2 separate regions of the Homo sapiens genome follow, and region 1 is linked to region 2. Evidence: fine-mapped expression QTL. A gene starts in region 2. The other region holds a variant in brackets. All regions are shown on one strand. Distances are from middle to middle.

The links. PIP is the estimated chance that this variant, and not a neighbour inherited with it, causes the effect. A credible set is the group of variants that fine-mapping cannot tell apart.
Region 1: its variant is the best candidate, but not a certain one, in a credible set for the expression of DYNLT2B in sigmoid colon (GTEx, PIP 0.54).

Annotation. Positions count from the first base shown.
Region 1 is chr3:196,273,349-196,277,734 of GRCh38, reverse strand. All of the region lies in intron 1 of PCYT1A (phosphate cytidylyltransferase 1A, choline), which reads left to right. Among named protein-coding and RNA genes, the nearest start is that of PCYT1A, 12 kb to the left of the region's middle. RefSeq lists enhancers at 2,774-2,983, 4,152-4,386. The variant A/G (reference allele first, on the strand shown) is at 2,251.
Region 2 is chr3:196,315,946-196,320,331 of GRCh38, reverse strand. DYNLT2B (dynein light chain Tctex-type 2B) reads left to right here and starts at 2,092. Exons shown (of 5, transcript NM_152773.5): 1 at 2,092-2,292; 2 at 4,101-4,234. The coding sequence starts at 2,180. It overlaps TM4SF19-DYNLT2B (TM4SF19-DYNLT2B readthrough (NMD candidate)), which reads left to right. Exons shown (of 6, transcript NR_037950.1): 6 at 4,101-4,247. It overlaps TM4SF19-AS1 (TM4SF19 antisense RNA 1), which reads right to left and starts at 2,000. Exons shown (of 2, transcript NR_046724.1): 1 at 1,895-2,000. It overlaps LOC107986031 (a long non-coding RNA gene), which reads left to right and starts at 2,741. Exons shown (of 2, transcript XR_001740547.2): 1 at 2,741-3,358; 2 at 3,490-3,890. RefSeq lists an enhancer at 2,163-2,262 and a silencer at 2,323-2,572.

The sequences.
Region 1 (4,386 bases), 43 kb after region 2:
CACGCTCAGCTAATTTTTGTATTTTTAGTAGAGATGGGGTTTCACCATGTTGGCCAGGCTGGTTGCGAACTCCTGACCTCATGTGATCCACCCACCTTGGTCTCCCAAAGTGCTGGGATTACAGGCATGAGCCACCGCGCCCAGCCCAGAGTAAAAGTTTAAACAGCAGTAGTTCTAGAGGAAAGTCATGAGGAGTAATCTTTGCATAATTTCTAAATTCTTTTAGGGTTATCATTATGGAATATCTGTGACCCAGATGTTTTCCATCTCCTGAGAAGTGGATGAGATAAAGAAGTGTCTTACACTAAAACCCAAAAAGCAGTGGGTGTGTTTTATTTTAAATCCGAAGGATCTAAAGACTTCAGTTTAAAGAACAGTGTAGAATATAATGTAAAACCCAAAAGTCATCTTTAGAAAATAGAAGAACTGTATGTAAGCAGATAAGGAATAGTATAAACACATAATAGTGTAAGCAGGTAAAGAAAAAAATATATATATTTTTTTGAAATGGAGTCTCACTCTTGTCACCCAGGCTGGAGTGCAATGGCATGATCTTGGCTCACTGCAACCTCTGCCTCCTGGGTTTAAGCAATTCTCCTGCCTCAGCCTCCCAAGTAGCTGGGATTACAGGTGCCCGCCACCACACCTGGCTAATTTTTATATTTTTAGTAGAAACGGGGTTTCACCATGTTGGCCAGGCTGGTCTTGAACTCCAGACCTCAGGTGATTCGCCTGCCTTGGCCTCTCAAAGTGCCAGGATTACAGGCATGAACCACTGCATGTGGCCTTTTTTTTTTTTGAGAAAGGGTCTCACTTTGCTGTCCAGGCTGGAGTGTAGTGGCATGATCATGGCTCAGTGCAGCCTTGACTTGCTGTTCTCAAGTAGTCCTCCCACCTCGGCCTCCCGAGTAGCTGGGACTACAGGCATGTGCCACTACACCTGGTCAATTTTTCGTAACTGCAAATATCCTATTCCTCAGCAAACTTTCACCCCATGGTTTTAGAATCCTGTAGAGCATTTTTATATCATAAGCATTTTTGAGGTGGAGCTCTGTGTGTGTTTTCCATGCCTTAATTGAAGCTTCCTTGAGAAAATAGTTTGTACTTAATTTTTTTTTTTTTTTCATTTTTTGAGACGGAGTCTCACTCTGTTGCCCAGGCTGGAGTGCAGTGGTGCGATCTCGGCTGACTGCAACCTTTGCCTCCCAGATTCAAGTGATCCTCCCGCCTCAGTCTCCTGAGTAGCTGGGATTACAGGAATGCACCACCAAGTCTGGCTAATTTTTGTATTTTTGTAGAGATGGAGTTTCACCATGTTGCACAGGCTGGTCTCAAACTCCTGACCTGAGGTGAGCTGCCCACCTCAGCCTCCCAAAGTGCTGGGATTGCAGGCGTGAGCCATTGTGCCTGGCCTTTAATTTTTTAAATTGATAAATAATAGTTGTTTATATTTATGGGATACAATGTGATACTTCGATATATGTTTACATGTGGAATGATTAAATCAAGCTAATTAACAAATTCCTTGCCTTATATACTTATTTTTTTGTGGTGAAAACATTTAAAATCTACTCTTTTAGCAATTTTGAAATATAAAATGCATTATTATTTATTTTGTTTTGGTTTTTTTTTTTTTTGGAGACGGAGTCTCACTCTGGCGCCCAGACTGGAGTGCAGTGGCACGATCTCGGCTCACTGCAAGCTCTGCCTCCCGGGTTCACACCATTCTCCTGCCTCAGCCTCCCCAGCAGCTGGGACTACAGGTGCCCGCCACCACGCCTGGCTAATTTTTTGTATTTTTAGTAGAGACAGGGTTTCACTGTGTTAGCCAGGATGTTCTCAATCTCCTGACCTTGTGATCCGCCTGCCTTGGCGTCCCAAAGTGCTGGGATTACAGGTGTGAGCCACCGTGCCTGGCTGCATTATTATTTATTATAGTCACCATTCTGTGCAATAGATCACTAAAGCTTATTTCTCCATTCTTTTTTTTTTTCTTTTTTGTTGAGACAGAGTCTTACTCTGTTGCCAGGCTGGAGTGCAGTGGTGCGATCTCAGCTCACTGCAACCTCTGTCTCCTGGGTTCAAGGGATTCTTCTGCCTCAGCCTCCCGAGTAGCTGGGATTACAGATATGCGCCACCACACCCAGCTATTTTTTGTACTTTTAGTAGAGATGGGGTTTCACCATGTTGGCCAGGATGGTCTCGATCTCTTGACCTCGTGATCCACCCGCCTCAGCCTCCCAAAGGCTG[A/G]GATTACAGGCGTGAGCCACTGTGCCCAGCCTGTTTCTCCTTTCAAAACTGAATTTTTGTACTCGACATCTCCCTTTTTGCTCTCCACCCTCTTCTGTCCATCTCTTGTAACCACCATTCCATTCTGTACTTCTGTGAGTTCCACTCTTTTAGATTCCACAAATAAGTGAGGTCATTTGTGGTATTTGTCTTTCTCGTCTGGCTTATTTCACTTAGCATAATGTCCTCCAGGTTCAGTTTGTACTTAAAAATTATGATACAGTACTTTGTAAGCAGTAAGTACTCATATTTTTGACTGCCTGATATTATTGACTTGCCAGATGCCAAATTGCTGATTATATTTCTCATAGTGGATTTTGTCTCTCTACACTTAGAAGAATTGAGCAGATACTTACAGAAGAGTACTGTGCAAATTAGAAAACAATCATTAATTGGATGGATTAGGCATTTTGAGTAGTTCACTCAGACCACTGAGATGAGAGTATTGACCTCTGAATATTATGAAGGAATCATTAAGAACAATAGTGAAGACAAGCTCTGATCATCATCACTGAAAGAACTCGGAGTGAAATGTATAGAACCCTTCTTCCATTTTAATTTGCATTTGTGATGAAAGGAAGTTTCTAGGTGGTGCTCATCTTTCACTTTCGACTCTGACATTTTTTCATGTTGGCCATGACTCATGGGGTGTCACCTTCAGCTTCTAAGAATTAGGCCAGTTTCTTGTAGATCTTGTCATATTGCCACTCGGAGTTGAGCCGGAGGAAAGAAAGTAAGGCACAGTTGCAGTTGTTTAGACGAACATCTCAGTCAGGCTTATGAGAGGCAGTAGGGCAGAGCAGACTGTCCTCATTCTGTCTGGCATTGGTTTTCCACCTGTTCTGAAGATTTTTCTCTGAACCGTATCTTGTGCAGAGATGACAGTTTATCATAGAGTTTCCCCTACCCCCAATTTCTGGCTGATTCCTAAAATTTCATCAGTATCAAGAAAGTAATTTATTTGTACAAATTGTGTTACTTAAGAAAAACGCAACTATCCCTGCAGGGGGCTGAAAAGCCAACATCTAAATGATGGCAGCGGTGGCCTGTCTGGATGGGCTGCTGCCATGATGCCGGCTGCAGTCGGGGAGGCATGGTCTGTGCTGCACGCTCCATGGAGCCACTGGGAGCTGGGAGTAGGTGGAAGCCCTGCCCGTTTCCAAGTTGGCAGGGCGGGAGCAGCCGTGGCTACATACCCGGGCTTCCCTGTGCTTTTGGGGGCCCAGGAACCTCCCCTGCCCCTGCAGGCTTGAAGTGCCTGCTCCCACTGCCTGGCCTCTCCTTGCTCCTGGTGCCTGCTCTGATTTTGGAGCAAAGTTGAGGCCAAGCCTGGGCACTGTCATGACCTGGCTGGGTTTGCGTGTGCTAGGGGCAGTGCTGACATGCCAGCCCCCTTCTGCCTTGGCCCCCTCTGGATTTTGGGTGTCCAGCAGCACAGGAGGGGACGCCAAGGCGGAGCTGAGAGCAGCTCCATTCAGGCCTGCAGGCGCCCCTTCGTGAATAGCCTGGGCGCTGTGGACAGCAGGTTGATGACAGCAGGAGGCAGACAGGCTCCTAGGCGGAAATGGGCGGGTCCCTGGTGAAGCCCCACCTTCAAGCCAGGGATGGCCTGAAGCCTGGGGCCCAGGCTGCCAGTTCTGTGGACTGGAATGAGAACTTACGATGCTTTTTCCGGGCTGCCTGTGGCTGCCCATGGACCAATCAGCATGCACTTCCTGCCCGCTGAAGCCCGTAGAAACCCTGGACTCAGCCATACTTGATGGGATGACCTGCCTGCGGATAGGAGCTTCCCACTCCAGGTCTCCTCTCCACTGAGGGCTGCAGAGACGTCAGGATGACCTGCCTGCAGATAGGAGCTATCCACTCTGGGTCTCCTCTCCGCTGAGGGCTGCACAGATGCTGGGACGACCTGCTGCGGAAAGGAGCTACCCGCTTGGGGTCTCCTGAGGGCTGTTGTGTTGCTCAATAAAGCACCTCTTCACCTTGCTCGTCCTCCAGTTGTCCATATACCTCATTCTTCCTGGACGTGGGACAAGAACTCGGGATCTGCCAAATGGTGGGACTGAAAGAGCTGAAACACAAACAGAGCCGAAACAC
Region 2 (4,386 bases):
CAGCCTCTTGAGCAGGCAGGAAGTCTCCAAGTCCAGAGAGCACATCCTATTCCTGCATACAACATCCAGGAAGCTTGCCTGGGCTTGTCTCACATTTCCCTCTTGGCTGGTTAGTTTCAGGGTCATGGCTAGGATATGCCTGATATGGAGAAGCTTCTCTTGCTGGGGAAAGGTACTGACACCTCCACACAACTCACGCAGAATTTTTTTTTTTTTTTTTTTTTTTGATACAGAGTCTCATGCTGGAGTGCAGTGGTGTGATCTCGGCTCACTGCAAGCTCCGACTCCCTGGTTCAAGCAATTCTCCTGCCTCAGCCTCCCAAGTAGCTGGGATTACAGGCACATGCCACCACACCCAGCTAATTTTTGTATTTTTAGTAGAGACCGGGTTTCACAATGTTAGCCAGGATGGTCTTGATCTCCTAACCTCATGATCCGCCCGCCTCGGCCTCCCAAAGTGCTGGGATCACAGGTGCGAGTCACCGTGCCTGGCCAACTAATGAAAAGTTTAAAGAATTTATATCTAGTTTTGGATGTTAGGCATGCACACACAAGTGCATGCACACTCATACACATCATCTCCACAAGCCCCATCCTGGCTCAGCCCTATTCTGATGGGTCAGCAGGACCCCAAGGAGAGAAGGGTGGGTCCTTGGCACTAAGACAGTTCACAGTGGTTAGCTGACTCCTTCTTGCCTCCATTCTTTCAGGAACTGCATATAGTACAGAACATGACAGCGATTCGAAAAACAATATCCCAGCTGGCTGTGATGGCTCATGCCTGTAGTCCCAGCACTTCGGAAGGCTGAGGTGGGATAATCACTTGAGCCCAAGAGTTCAATAGTAGCCTGGGCAGCATAGCCAGATCCTATCTCTACAAAAATTAAAAAGATTAGCCACGCGCGGTGGCATTCGCCTGTAGTTCCAGGTACTCCAGAGGCTGAGGTGGGAGGACTGCTTGAGTCCAAGAGGTCGAGGCTGAAGTGAGCGGTGAGTGTGCCACTGCACTCCAGCCTGAGAAACAGAGCAAGACCCTGTCTCAAGTGGGAAAAAAAAAAAAAGGAATCCCTGCCCTTTCAGCCTCTCCTGTAAACAGGGATTACAGGCACGAGCTACCTCATCGGGCCTTAGTTTTTGAAGCTAGCAGAGGCCAAGATACAACAGCCTTCTAAAACAGGACCAGGGACTGGTGCTTATAAGCAGGGAATGCGGCAGAGTACGATGGCTCACGCCTGTCATCCCAGCACTTCGGGAGACCGAGGTGGGCGATCACCTGAGGTCAGGAGTTGGAGACCAGCCTGGCCAATATGGTGAAACCCCGTCTCTAATAAAAATACAAAAAAAATTAGCCGGTCGTGGTGGGGCGCGCCTGTAATCCCTGCTGCTTGGGAGGCTGAGGCAGAATTGCTTGAACCTGGGAGGTGGAGGTTGCAGTGAGCCGAGATCGCGCCTCTGCACTCCAGCCTGAGTGACAGAGCGAGACTTCGTTTAAAAAAATAAAAATAAATATATATTTTTAAAAGCGGGGAATGCAGCCTAAGTCTCTTTCCTTCCTTCCTTTTTTTTTTTTTTTCTTTTTTTGAGACGCAGTCTCGCTCTGTCGCCAGGCTGGAGTGCAGTGGCGCGATCTCGGCTCACTGCAACCTCGGCCTCCTGGGTTCAATAGATTATTCTGCCTCAGCCTCCAGAGCAGCTGGGGTTACAGGCACGCGCCACCACGCCCGGCTAATTTTTGTATTTTCAGTAGAGATGGGGTTTCACCATGTCGGCCAGGATGGTCTTGAACTCTTCCTGACTCAGGTGATCCGCCCGCCTCGGCCTCCCAAAGTGCTGGGATTGCAGGCCTGAGCCCCCGCACCCGGCCGCCGCAATTACTTCTGCACCAGCCTAATACCTCAAGTCCAGGAGCCTCAGGCCCCGCGTCTATTTCCTCCGACTGCGGCGCGGCTGATACTGCCTGAGGCGGGTGGAAGCTGTCGCGCGTCCGGACGCGACCAGTTCCCGCCCAGCAGCCGGTGCGCAGGCGCGGGCAGGGAGGGCGGCTGTGCGGGGCGCTCGCGGGCTTCAGCGAGGCGGGAGGGCGGCCCTGTTGCCCTGGAGACGCTTTCCCTGCTGCCGGCCGCGACCGCAACCCGCTAGGCCTTCATCGCGAGCTACGCCCGGACCGAGAAGCCCCGGCATGGCCACGTCCATCGGAGTGTCCTTCTCGGTGGGCGACGGGGTGCCTGAGGCTGAGAAGAACGCAGGGGAGCCCGAGAACACCTATATTCTGCGGCCTGTTTTCCAGCAGAGGCGGGTAGAGGACGGGCTGTGGCGGGGCGACCTCGAGCGCGCTGGTCTGAGGGGCGGAGCTCGCCTGGGACCTGGGCCACGGAAGGAGCGCGGGGGACGCGCGGGGTCCGCGGGGCGGGAGGCGGGAGGCCGCGAGGCGGGCGGGCGGCCCTGCTGTGACGTCCGGGCGCCCCTCCCGCTGCAGGGGCCGCAGGGGACCCCACCCGCTTCCTCAGTGTTTGGGCGCCGGGCGCGTCTTAGGGTGGCGCGGCGGGAATGGTTGGCCCTGGGAAACCCGCGATGGCGTCCTGAGTAAGGAGATGGGTAGAATAGAGGCAGGAAGCCACTCGCGTCGGATGCCGTTCAGCCGTGATTCGAGGGTGACTGTGCACACGGGTGCCAGGATGGGCTCACTCCCGGCGCGGGAGCTGCATCTGTGCGAAGTCCTACCCGGGTGGGATCTGGAGGCCCTTAGACCACCGCAGCGAGCCCTCGCTAGGATTAAGGCTCACGGGCCAGAGCAGAGGGTACTCAGCTAGGTTTGTGAGATCACTAACTTTACACACACACACACACACACACACACACACTGAAAAAAATATCAGGCTCACGGGCCAGAGCAGAGGGTACTCAGCTAGGTTTGTGAGATCACTAACTTTACACACACACACACACACACACACACACACACTGAAAAAAATATCAGGCTCACGGGCCAGAGCAGAGGGTACTCAGCTAGGTTTGTAAGATCACTAACTTTACACACACACACACACACAACACACACACACACTGAAAAAAAATGTCAGGCTCACGGGCCAGAGCAGAGGGTACTCAGCTAGGTTTGTAAGATCACTAACTTTACACACACACACACAACACACACACACACACACACACACACACTGAAAAAAAATGTCAGGCTCACGGGCCAGAGCAGAGGGTACTCAGGTTTGTAAGATCACTAACTTTACACACACACACACACACACACACACCACACACACACCACACAACACACACACACACACACACACACTGAAAAAAATGTCAGGCTCACGGGCCAGAGCAGAGGGTACTCAGCTAGGTTTGTGAGATCACTAACTTTACACACACACACACACACCACACAACACACACACACACCACACAACACACACACACACACACTGAAAAAAATGTCAGGCTCACGGGCCAGAGCAGAGGGTACTCAGCTAGGTTTGTAAGATCACTAACTTTACACACACACACACACCCCATATTTGCTTGGCAAATATGGAAAACAGGAATTTTGATTATAATGTGATACAAATTTCTTTGTTTATTTTTATTCTCTTGGTAACTCACAGAAAAAGTGATACAAATTTCATACAGGATTTTTCCCTTGGGTAGAATGAACACAGAGAAAGATACCCTCAGTTATCTTGGTAAAAGGTTCTGAATGCCCAGAATGCCATTCAGCCGTATTTTTTTATTTTATTTTATTTTATTTTATTTTGTGAAAGCGTGCAGAACAAAATTAACAACAAGTATATATTTTGTTTTGGGGGAGAGGGGAGTATGAGAAGCTCATTATTGGATGTATTGAGTTGCCTAATAAACATTCATATGGAGCATGAGTTGGAATGTGTTGAAGTTCAGTGCAGGTCCAGGTTGAAGATACACATGTGGCCTATGATTTGTCTTAATTTGTTTATATTTTATAATAAAAAATATGAAAAAGAAGGATTAAGTGGTACTAATGACAAAAAGATGGGAGAAGTTGCGGTATGAAGGTAAGCTGGGGTTGTGGAGTCACCGACTGGATGTTCACAAATTGTTCCATTCAGGTTCAGGCCCTCTGTGGTTAAAGACTGTATCCATGCTGTGCTCAAGGAGGAACTGGCAAATGCTGAATATTCTCCAGAAGAAATGCCTCAGCTTACAAAACATTTATCAGAAAACATTAAAGATAAATTAAAAGGTAATCATGGTGATAACTGGAAATGACTCATTCTCTTCACAGAGTCAGTATTACCCATTTGCCCCCTCTCCATCTTTAAACAAAGGACATTGGGGCCAGGTGTGGTGGCTCACGCCTACAATCCCAACACTTTAGCATGCCAAGGCAGGAAG